Homo sapiens: one gene and its partners. The protein of the gene in region 3 purifies or fractionates together with the protein of the main gene of each other region. This does not show direct contact. Each region holds a gene or a part of one and is shown on either strand. Other genes may lie near its edges.

The links.
Region 1: the proteins of NCR3LG1 (region 3) and RYK purify together in Homo sapiens (affinity purification with mass spectrometry; 4 studies listed by BioGRID and IntAct, with this or other methods). This does not show direct contact.
Region 2: the proteins of NCR3LG1 (region 3) and PIGG purify together in Homo sapiens (affinity purification with mass spectrometry; 2 studies listed by BioGRID and IntAct, with this or other methods). This does not show direct contact.

The regions. Positions count from the first base shown.
Region 1 is NC_000003.12:134,160,162-134,163,989, reverse strand, and holds part of RYK (tyrosine-protein kinase RYK isoform 2 precursor), read left to right. Parts: intron 1-3,828. UniProt on the Homo sapiens protein: May be a coreceptor along with FZD8 of Wnt proteins, such as WNT1, WNT3, WNT3A and WNT5A. Involved in neuron differentiation, axon guidance, corpus callosum establishment and neurite outgrowth.
Region 2 is NC_000004.12:501,982-505,809, forward strand, and holds part of PIGG (GPI ethanolamine phosphate transferase 2, catalytic subunit), read left to right. Parts: intron 1-3,736; coding exon 3,737-3,828.
Region 3 is NC_000011.10:17,368,800-17,372,399, forward strand, and holds part of NCR3LG1 (natural cytotoxicity triggering receptor 3 ligand 1 precursor), read left to right. Parts: intron 1-67; coding exon 68-165; intron 166-3,206; coding exon 3,207-3,600. UniProt on the Homo sapiens protein: Triggers NCR3-dependent natural killer cell activation.

The DNA of each region.
Region 1 (3,828 bases), on a different chromosome or scaffold from region 3:
ATAAAATAATGTGATCCAGGCTTCAGAATTATTAAGATAGGACAGAGGAACTGGACTTTTTAGCAAGCACCCCAGATAATTCTTCTCCTTCTTATAAAACACTTAACCCAGGTTCATTTAATTGCACTTTGGTAATCTGCAGCCATGTCTTTATGTGAGAAAGGGATATTAGGTTTCTAATATGAACAGAAAGGCCTAGCCATGGACCACCTGATGATGCTTCCACTGTGGTCAGATAAGATAATTTACAATTGAATGGAATTATTTTCCTTTCAGTTTATAGTTTACTGAAGTGAGCCTTGCATTGTAAGTTCCTGAAGTAATCACTGGAAATGTCTTAATTCAGTAGCTCCATCTTTAGTTAATGCTGCACTAAAAGAAAAAAGGAATTTTACTTACATACTTTTTGACAAGTCACATTCATATATGTTTTAGTGGAAAAACTGTTTTACATCTTATATATAGAAGCTGTAAAATAACATGTTCTGGGGAGAGGAATAAGATGAATAGAATAACATTATAATTATCTAAATGTTCTTTAAATGGAGATAGCCACAATCTTTCGTAAAACTCTGGAAAGAACAGCATGACCTTCTTATTGCCCCCTTTCCACCGACGTCAAACAGAAGGAAATTATAGAATAAGTCTGTCTAAATTTTAAATGGTTCAGTTATCGGAAGACCTTAGAGAGCAAGTTTTCCACAAATCATCTCTGCGCCATTTTGTCTTGATTATTTTTTTAAGGGTTGGTTTGCCAACATGTAATTAATCACTTTTGTTAGTTTTTAAGGAAATGAAACTGCATTGTTCCCTTTGGCTTGACTGTTCTTTTTTATGGCGTCTTTTAGTGTTGTAGTTGTAATATGAAAACCTTAGGTAAATGTTGGGCAGTAATGTGAACAAAACAGTGGGAAGGGAGTAATTTTTAAAAGCTTATCTACATTGCTGCTGTAATACTTACATTCAACTCCAGATCTCAAATACCACCAACTTTAATATCAAAGTCCCTTAAAGTCAGAAGGTGTTATAATGTCAGTGGATGGGGTTATTCCCTGTGTACAAAGAGTCAGGATGCACTTGTCACCAATTCCCATGGTTTCTTCTTCCAAAATCTAGTTTGAATGGATCATTTCATCTCTGGAGGAAGGGATGGGAGCACCCTTCCGACCAGTTTCATTTCTTTGGGCTCTGTTCCATCTGTGCAGGGAACTACCTTCTCTATGGAAATTGGACACGATTTTAAAAATAAAGCATTGCATTTACTAATGACTGTCAGTATTAAGATTTCATGTAGATCTTGTTGCTTCTCAGAAAAAAGTTTCATATACAGTAAGGTTTTAAAGATAGGCAAATAACTAGTTGTGAGCAGGCACCATCCTTTAACTTTTATTAATTTGAAATCATTTTTCCATTTTTAAGCAGAATAGAATGTCCCAGTAGGTGTAAGGGAAATTTCAGTAGCCTCCAAGACTCTGTGGAGATTTTGAAACTATACACGCTTCTCCATCTGTCGCCTGCCCCCTCCTCCCAGAGCATAGACTTCAAGGCTGGACTTTGCTCCATGTTAATGATCACTGTTAATGAAAAAGATAATAGGTTCCAAAAGGCTGACCACCTGTTTTTGGTATTTAGGGTAATGCTGCTGTCAAAGTGAATGAGATATATTCCTTCCTCTGTGTTCTGAAAGTTTACGTAGGGTTGGGTGTGTAATGGGTTGAATTGTGTCCTGCGTCTCCACCAAAAAAAAAAAAAAAATGGTTGAAGCCCTAACCCCCAGTACCTCAGAATGTGACCTTATTTGGAAATAGGGTCATTGCAGATGTAACGTTAAGATGAGGTCATACTCAATGAGTATGAGCTCTAATCCACCCTAAGAAAAGAGACACACACATGAGGAGAAAATGTCACGTGAAGATAGAGGCAGGGACTGCAGGGCTGCAGCTGCAAACCAAGACACACCAGGGGCTTCCGGCAACCACAGGAAGCTGGGAATAGGCAAGGAAAGATTCCCCCTACAGGTTTCCGGGGAAGCACAGCCACGCTGACACATTGATTTGGACTTCTAGCTATCAGAGCAGTGGGACAATAAATTTCTGTTGTTTAAACTACTCGTTTGTGGTATGTTATTATGGTAGCCCTAGAAAACTAATACAGATTTATATTTTCTTTCAAGTTTGATAGAATTCACCAAACAGTGTTGAGTTTTCTTTGTGGAAAGGTTTTGAATTGTGAATTCAGTATCTTTAATAGATGTAGGGCTATATAGATGTTCTGTTTACTCCTGTGTCTGTTTTGGTAATTTGTATTTTAAGAAATTTGTTTATTTCATTTAAGTTGCTGAATTTATTGGCATAAAATTGGATTGTTCATAATATTTTTTGATGTCTTAAAGGATGGTGTTCCCTCCTTTATTTCTGATATTTTAAATTTTTTGTTGTTGTTCAGTCTAACACAGTGGTTCTTAACTGGGACAGTTTTGCTCTGGCTAAGGACATTTGTCTGTGCCAAGGGACATTTGGCTATGTCCGGAGGCATTTTGGGTTGTCACAGCTTGGAGGATGTGCTACTATCATCTAGTGGGTAGAGCCCAGGGAGAATGCTAAACATCCTACAATGCACAGGACAGCTTCTCACAGCAAAGAATCCTCCAGCCCACAATATCAGTAGTGCTGAGGTTAAAAAACCTACTCTAGGCTTTATAGTGTAAACCTTCTATTTTCCAAAAATATTATATCATTTCATGTTTAATATAGTGTTTCCATTCATCCCCTTCCAGTCTTCAAACTGGTTGTGGGCATACCTTTTACTTCTCTGTATATTATAAACCCCACGATATATTGTTAGCTGTTTTTGCTTTAAATAGTCTGTCAAGGAAATTTTAACATAAGAGAATATGTTCAGTTGTTACTAATATATTTTCAGCACTCTGTATTCTTTGTGTTGACTCAGATTTCCATGTGGTATATTTTCTTTCCACATGAAGAACTGCTTTCATACATCTTACAGGTCTGCTGGAAACATAGTCTCTCTGCTTTTATTTGTCTGAAAAACTCTGTATTTATCTTCATTGTTGAAGTATATTTTGGCTCTATATAGAACTTTCCATGACAGTTTTTAATTTTTTTTTCTTTCTTTGAGACAGAGTCTCGCTTTGTTGCCCAGGCTGGAGTGCAGTGGCGCGATCTCGGCTCACCGCAACCTCCGCCTCCCGGGTTTAAGCGATTCTCCTGCTTCAGCCTCCCGAGTAGCTGGGATTACAGGCATGCGCCACCATGCCCAGATAATTTTGTATTTTTAGTAGAGATGGGGTTTCTCTATGTTGGTCATGGCTGATCTTGAACTCCTGACCTCAGATAATCCTCCCAAAGTGCTGGGATTACAGGTGTGAGCCACCGTGCCTGGCCCTAAAATATTTTAAAATATGTCATTTCATTGTTTTCTTGTTTGCATAGATTCTGGGGGGAAATGTAGCTATTGTTCACTATTATAAGGCTTTTAAAAAAATCTGTGTATTTTACAAAGTATTTTGGGATTTTGTTGTTATTGAAAAATAATAACCTAAAATTTAATGCAACATGTTTAGATTTTACAAACAGACTTGTATTTGACTTGCGTTTGGTATTTCTCTTTTTTCCTTTTCTTTTTTTCACTTTTTTCTCTTTTACTCATTAAAATATGTATTTTGGGGCAAGCTATTTCTCTGAGCCTCAGTTTTCTCACCTGTAAAATTGAGCTACCAATGATTCTCACAGGTTTATTGAGGAAATTAAATGTATTGAAGGATGCAAAATGATTTGAATTTGTAGGTACTCATAAACCTGATACTAC
Region 2 (3,828 bases), on a different chromosome or scaffold from region 3:
GAGTTTTTGCCGTCCTGCTGAAACTAGCTGTGGGAATCTGGAAGAAAGACATCCAGCCCCTGATTTTCAGGAACACCGGTTTCTTTATCTGCTCTATCAGAAGTGTGGAAGGAACCCTTTTCTCCTTTTCTTTTAAGATTTAACAGGCAGATTTGAGAAAATGTATAAGTGATTGTGCAGGTTCTAGGTTCTATTCAGACCAGTCCGTTGGCACTGTGGTTCTTGGGGCCTCTGTCTCCAGCTTATTGGTTTTATTTCACCTTTGCTGGGGAGCCTCACCCCAGAGCTAGTGTTTTGTTTCATTTTCAGTCCTTTGAGGATTCTTGCTCCTTATTTCCCCATCAGGGAGGAGCTAGAACAGAAAGCCCATACTGGAGTTAGGATTGTACAGCTCTGGAGTTTGGTAGGTTGGGGTTGGGCAGTGTTGGTTGAGGAAAGTGTCCCCTGCCCTGCCTCCAGTCTGAGAAAGGGCTCAGAGCATCTCCTGGTGTTGATACATTTGTAACCAGACGCCAACCCTGACATGTCCAGTGTGCTTTCACTTGCTAAGACCCTGCAGCAGCTTTGTTTTAAAGTCATGTAACTCATTTTTGAATGCCTTTTCTTTCTTAAAGAACTTTCTGGTCATAATAATAGCTGGCATTGATTGACAGACCTGAGCTTTCCCTTAGATTTCTTAGGACTGTAAATGCAGCCCACTCGCTGTCTGCACGCTTTCTGGGATGAGGGGATGCCAAGTAGTCCCTACCCTCTTTAAAAATATCGGTGGGAACCCAAGCTAGTGTGAGGATGAGGGAGGTGCCTTGTAAAAGCCACAAAAGAAGGGATGAAAACAGAAAACTTTTATATTGTCAAATGTTGTAAACAAAGTCAACAACATGATAAACTGAAGAAATTATTGACAGTGGACATGGCATACAAGATGTTAAGTCCATGATGTATAAAGAGGTTCGGATCAAGGAGGGACAGTCCTATGGAAACTGGGCCGAGTATATAACGGAATCCACCAAGGAAGAAAGCGGAATGGCCAATAAGCATATGCAGAGATTCTTGACTAGTAATCAGAGCAGGGCAAACAAAACAACCCATATGCCAGTTTTTGTTTATCATATTGTAAAAATTTAAAGATTGATGATCTCTACCCCGCACAAGAAACGAGGTGAACAGGTGCTCTTGAAATACTGTGGATGTGAATACAGGTTGACTGAGCTGGTATCTCCACTGCCACCACCGTCGTCCAGGCTGCTGTGGGCTCCAGCCTGAACTGTTATAAATGCCCTAGCACCTTTTCTTGGCCCAAATCACTTCTGGACACAAATCAGACCCTGCTACACTACTCTTTAAAACCCTTCAGTAGTTTACGCTCTGCCCAGTTTGAACACTGAACCCCATCACCCGTCCCTCAAGGCTCTGCGTGGCCTCACTCCCGTTTACCTCTTCATCCTCATATAGGCCCCCTTCCGTGTTCCCTTGCCCTTCATCCACACAGGTCACACGCAGCTCATTTCCTCCCGGGTGCTGCTGTCTTTTCTGCCTGGAGCCTTTGCAGTTTGCAGGTGTTTTACTCTGGAAAGTCCCACCTCACCTCCACAACTTTTCAACCTTCAGGTCTCAGCTCAAGTGGCACTTCCATAGGAAGCTGTTTAAAATAAATGCCCAGTAAAATGGTCTTGGTTAAATACGTTATTGTACAGCTACACACTGGAATGCTCTGTAGCTGTTTGGAAAAAAGATAAAATGCTTGTGTTTTCCCTAGGTAAAGATGTTCATGATGTGTTATTAATTGAAGAAGTTTGAGAGTAATTTGTATAGTTTGCTACCATTTTGGTAAAAAATGTGTACCTTCATATATTTGTGATTTTATACACACACACACACACACACACACACACACACACACACACAGAAAAGAGTCCAAAAGGATACTCACCAAGAGTAATTGGCTGCCTTTTAAGGAGTACAATTTTGGGGTGAGGTTCACATTTTAAAAAATAACTATTGAAATATAATTTTTATACAATTACATTTTTGCATGTACAGCATTTAACAAATGTGTGTATCCAGGCAAACCCCACCTCAGCTCAATTCTGGCCCCACCCTAGGAATGTTGGTGGCTGTTAGGGTTATTTTGGTTGTTTGTATAGTGAGTTCCTGCAGTCTGTCTCCCCGGGAGCGTGCGGCAACTGATGTTTTGACTTAGGTCTTTTGGTTCTTTTGGTTTTTAAGTTCTTGTTTTTATCTTTAAGCCTGTCTTCCTGAGTGCTGGCCCTGGCTCCGCATAGCTTAGTGGTCAGCCACTGATTGGTCAGAGGTTGTGCTTCAGCACCCCTGATGTGTTTTCATAACCTCCCTGGGTGTGGGGCTTCTCAGTGGCTGCTGCAGCGTGGAGCTGGAAAGGAGGGAAGTGGGAGCCGCCCTGTGTAGAAACACCATGGGCACTTGCTGTTCTTACTGAGATTCCGTGTTTTTTCTTAAATAAGCACTTCTCAATCTGTTCTATAATTTTGGTGAATTTCCAAAGTACTAAAATGGTTGCTTTTGACAGTTTCATCCAGTTTTATTATTGCTCCTGGGAGAGAGATTTTGCCGAGCTCCTCCCTGTGGCATTCCAGAAGTCTGGATAATTCATACTTGCATTTATTTATCGTTAAAGATGTCTCGGTAAAATTATTTCACCTGCTGATGTTACCCAGGTTCCCGTTTATTTTCATTGCACAGGTTCCAGGATGCCAGTGCTGGCTGGGGTGGCTGTATAACTCTAAATCACAGAGATCTGTTACCCATTACCATGGCCTCTTAGGTTCTATGCTAAACTCAGGGAAATTCTTGACTCAATTCTATTATCAGAAGGGTATAAGGGCAAGTCACCTCCCACCCCTCCCAGAAAATATGGGGCAACATTGAGGGTGGGAGCAGAAGAGACTATCCCAGTGGCCTCCCTGGCCCCCAGTTCACTTTGCAAATTGCTGAAAGTTCACGCTTTAGGACTGCTTTCATCCTGGTTTTCCACTCAAAGGTAGACATTGGAATTGCTGGATTGTTAGGAGTCGTATGGACTTTGCTTGTCACGTGGAGATTTGAATCTTAATTGGGACCTGGCAGAGGCTTTGAATACACAGGTTAATGTTTCTAATGTATACCTCACTTTGCCGTTTGCTTCAGCTACATCGCAAACCCATAGCTGCTTCTCTGGCTGTTGCCGTCGTCTCGCTATCCCTAGCCGCCTCCTTTAACCTCTTGTCAGCTGGAAAGATTATTAGGAGCCATGAATGTCCTTTAATATGGTTATCTTTGTTACTATTGAGTTTACAGTTTTTCACCAGAATCTATGTGCCTCTTTCTCTTCTTTACCCTAATTACTGTCCTAACATTGACCCAGCCACCAGTACTAGGGATGCCCTAGCTTTATGCTCACCTATTTTATCCATAAAAAATCTTCAGACCAGCCTGGGCAACATAGCGGGACCCTGTATCTACCAAAAAAAAAAAAAAAAAAAAAAAAAAAGCTGGGTGTGGTGCCACACACCTGTAGTTCCAGCTACTTGGGAGGCCAAGGTGGGAGGATCGCTTGGGCCCAGGAGTTCAAAGCTGCAGTGATCCCTGATTGCATGACTGCACTCCATCCTGAGCAACAGAGAGGGACCCTGTCTCAAAAAAAAAAAAAAAAATCTTCAGTGCCCTTTTCATGCTCCGGTTTTGGATTCAGTGGCCTAATTCTTGCATTTTCTGACTGCAGGCATTGATGACGGGGAGCCTTCCTGGCTTTGTCGACGTCATCAGGAACCTCAATTCTCCTGCACTGCTGGAAGACAGTGTGATAAGACAAGC
Region 3 (3,600 bases):
CAGTTGTGTGGTTTCTCTGGCCCTTGCCAGTAGGTTTCCTGCTAATGTTTTCCTTCTCTCTCTGCAGAAACTGAGAAGACAGATAATTTTTCCATTCATTGGTGGCCTATTTCATTCATTGGTGTTGGACTGGTTTTATTAATTGTTTTGATTCCTTGGAAAAAGGTAAGGGGCTCCAAAGCAAAGTTCAGCCCTGTGTCTTGGGCTAGTAAAAAGCTTTTAGAGCAGCTGCTGCCAACCTTACAAGCCTCAAGGGACAGGCCTGCTGGAAAGGACTTTGTCAGTCCCTCTTCACCATCAGGTGTTGGGAATGTTGGCTGTGTTCCAATCCAGTTTCCTATCACAGAGGACCTAGCTGTCACATACCATCTGACCTCTGTATGGTGGTTTGTGACTCTGGGGTGATGTGTTGTAAAGCCTCCCTCTCTTTCTCCATACTAAACAAGTATTATATCTCTGTGAATGAACCAGACTTTAGTGTTCAGACCAGGCCCTGAACTATGTGTGGACTGCTTGTTTTTCTCACACATTTAGAAACTATGGCTTAGAGAGGGGAATTCCTCATATTTTATCTGATCAATAACTGACCACCAGATCTCACTAGTTTGACTAAGAATTTCTAACCCTCACTAGGTATTTCTAAACTAAAACATGTTTCTAAACATTTTTATCCCTGACTATGGCCCAAATAGTAAATAAAACAGCTCAAGCTTTAGAGGCCCAAGAGACCTATGTAAATGTGTTGGTTAAAATAGTTTTAGATAATAAAAGGGCCCTCAATTATTTATGGGCCTGTCAAGGCAAAATCTGCACAACAGCCAGTACATCTCATTATAAATAATTTAGGAGAAGTGGAATAATCAGTCAATTAAGAAAAATGGCCCTTTATCTAAAGTTGGCCATTTAGATTCACGGGACTTATTCCTGTTGGATCTAGGCCATGAGAAAACTGGATAAAAAGTGGTTTTCAAATGTTTCTTGTGGTATTTGTGACTGTTGTCATATTTCTTGCCTTTCTCTGGTTCTGATATTCAGGTGCTATTGAGAGAGGAGGAAGGAAGAAACTAGTCAGGCAGGCAGTTAGGGTGGGCCCTCAGTCAAATTCCTTCAAACAAAAGAACAGCCTGAAAAATCAAACTGCAGATAAGGGAACTTGTACAGGGGGGCTTGCCTAAAACATGCCCACAGCCACATACATTAAAACAAGGCTACACAGGAGACTTGCCTAGACATGCTCACAATAGAAAATTCCATCCCCTGACACATGCACAGTAAGGGGAACAAAGCCACATGGAGTAACTCAAGCTAAGGGCTTGCATGCACACTACGAGGATGGGGTGGAGCTACCAGAAATGTGTGCCTTATGCCTTTGTATTCAGCTGTGAAATGGCAACCCTCTTTTGGGCCCCCTCTCTGCAGTGGAGTGCTTTCTTCTTTTGCTTATTAAACTTTCACTTCAACTTCATCTTTGGGGTCCGCGCTCCTTAATTTTCTTGGTCATGAGACAAAGAACTTCAGGTGATACCTTGGGCAATGAGAGACTGCTACATTGTGGTGCATTGACGAGACTAACATTTTGGTGCATTGGCCAGGAAACATTGGAAGGGTGAGTAGGAGCGGACCTCCAAACTCTTTACTTTCATTTCAGAGGCTTCTTGTCCTCAGATTTTTTCCTGAAGACTGAACAAAACACTGGGCCAGTTAAAAGCTTTTAGAGCGGCTGCCAACCTTATGAGACTTAAGATACAGGCTTGCTGGAGAGGACTTTGTCAGTCCCCCTTCACCCTCAGGTGTTGGGAATGTTGGCTCTGTTCTAATCCAGTTTCCTTTCACAGAGGACTTAGCTGTCACATGGGCTAGAAGGAGGTCCTGGGGCAACTGAAGGTTTCTGTTTGAGGCTACTCCTCAGTGTTACCTGAAGGTCCCTGGACTAACTCCAGCCCCCGACAGCCCGTCAGAATGTTGGCACCAGGACTTCCAGACTTTTCTATTGCATTTTCTTCCTTGCTTTTCGCAGCTACTATGTCTCCTATTCCTTCTTTGTATGCAATGTTGTGGGTGTCTTTATAGCCTGGGGAGATAATCCTGTTAAGCAAAGTCAGCAAGTGCCTTAGTAACGAGGAATGTAACTCAAATAATTGTTGTTTTTGTGATTTCCTTGAGACAGGGGGACTTCAAGATTTCAGCCTAAATTTTCACTTAGGGCCTTTTTGTCCCCCAGTGATAGACATTCATGGCACTCTATAGGGGGATGTTTCACCCCAAGTGAATACCCTTTTCTCCATCAGGTTGTTTTTCCTTCATGTAAGAGCTCAGCATTGCCCAATGAATTTAAGCATTCCCTCTATGAGACAAACTAGTTTTTTTTCTACTGGACAGCATATTATGGGGACAGCCTATTAAGCCCCAAACCTCCCTTTCTGACCTCTGCTTGGAAAGAATTTGTAGTCAGAGTTTTTTCCTAACATTTCAAACCCTATAGTGCTACCTAGTGGGATGGGATTTTTCTCTGTGAGAAGCCTTGTCAGCCCTTTGCCCAAAACCTCTAGTTCCCTGATTCCTTTCTCTCTTATGTCCCTCTTTCAGTGATCAGGCCCCATGCCCTATTTGTAAGCATAAAAACTCCTCTTTCAACAGCCAGGAAGAAGCTACCCTGGGAAGACATATTTTAGCCTCAGTGTTATCCCCATTGGAGGGAGAACAGCCATTCAATTTTTACATTCTTTTGAGGCATCTGTTCTGTACACAGCTACACTGGCATCTAAGTGAGAAAGGGATCTTGTGTTTAGAAATCAATCAGTCTCATTCTCTAGGAATTCATAACTTTGCCAGGGTGGTAGTAAGAGGATGTAAGGATAGAGTTAAGATGTTCCCTTCCTTAAAGGGTCTTGCCCCAATCCAACTACTGCACAATCTCTCCCATGGTTCTAGGGAATCTCAGGAGCCTTATGGGCCAAGTAGGTCTAGGAAACCAGCAGGGCAGAGAGCTAGGACCTTGTGCAGGTGAGCACAAGCTAGCTCCTCCGGATTCATGGGTGAAGGTCATGCTTTGATCCATGGGCAGCACCTATAATGGTCACCAGGAACCTGAGGAAATGGGAGGGAAGAGGAGAAGGGGGACGCCCCTTCCATTTTTCTCTCTGCTGTCGATCACTCCAGAAGGACAAAGGAGACTAAGGGATGCCTTTTCTCTCCTCTTTTTCTAGATATGTAACAAATCATCTTCAGCCTATACTCCTCTCAAGTGCATTCTGAAACACTGGAACTCCTTTGACACTCAGACTCTGAAGAAAGAGCACCTCATATTCTTTTGCACTCGGGCATGGCCGTCTTACCAGCTGCAGGATGGGGAGGCTTGGCCTCCTGAGGGAAGTGTTAATATTAATACTATTCAACAACTAGATGTTTTCTGCAGACAGGAGGGCAAATGGTCCGAGGTTCCTTATGTGCAAGCCTTCTTTGCCTTGCGAGACAACCCAGATCTTTGTCAGTGTTGTAGAATTGACCCTGCTCTCCTAACAGTTACATCAGGCAAGTCCATAGATGATAATTCCACAAAGTCTGAGAAACAAACCCCTAGGGAACACTCGGATGCAGTTC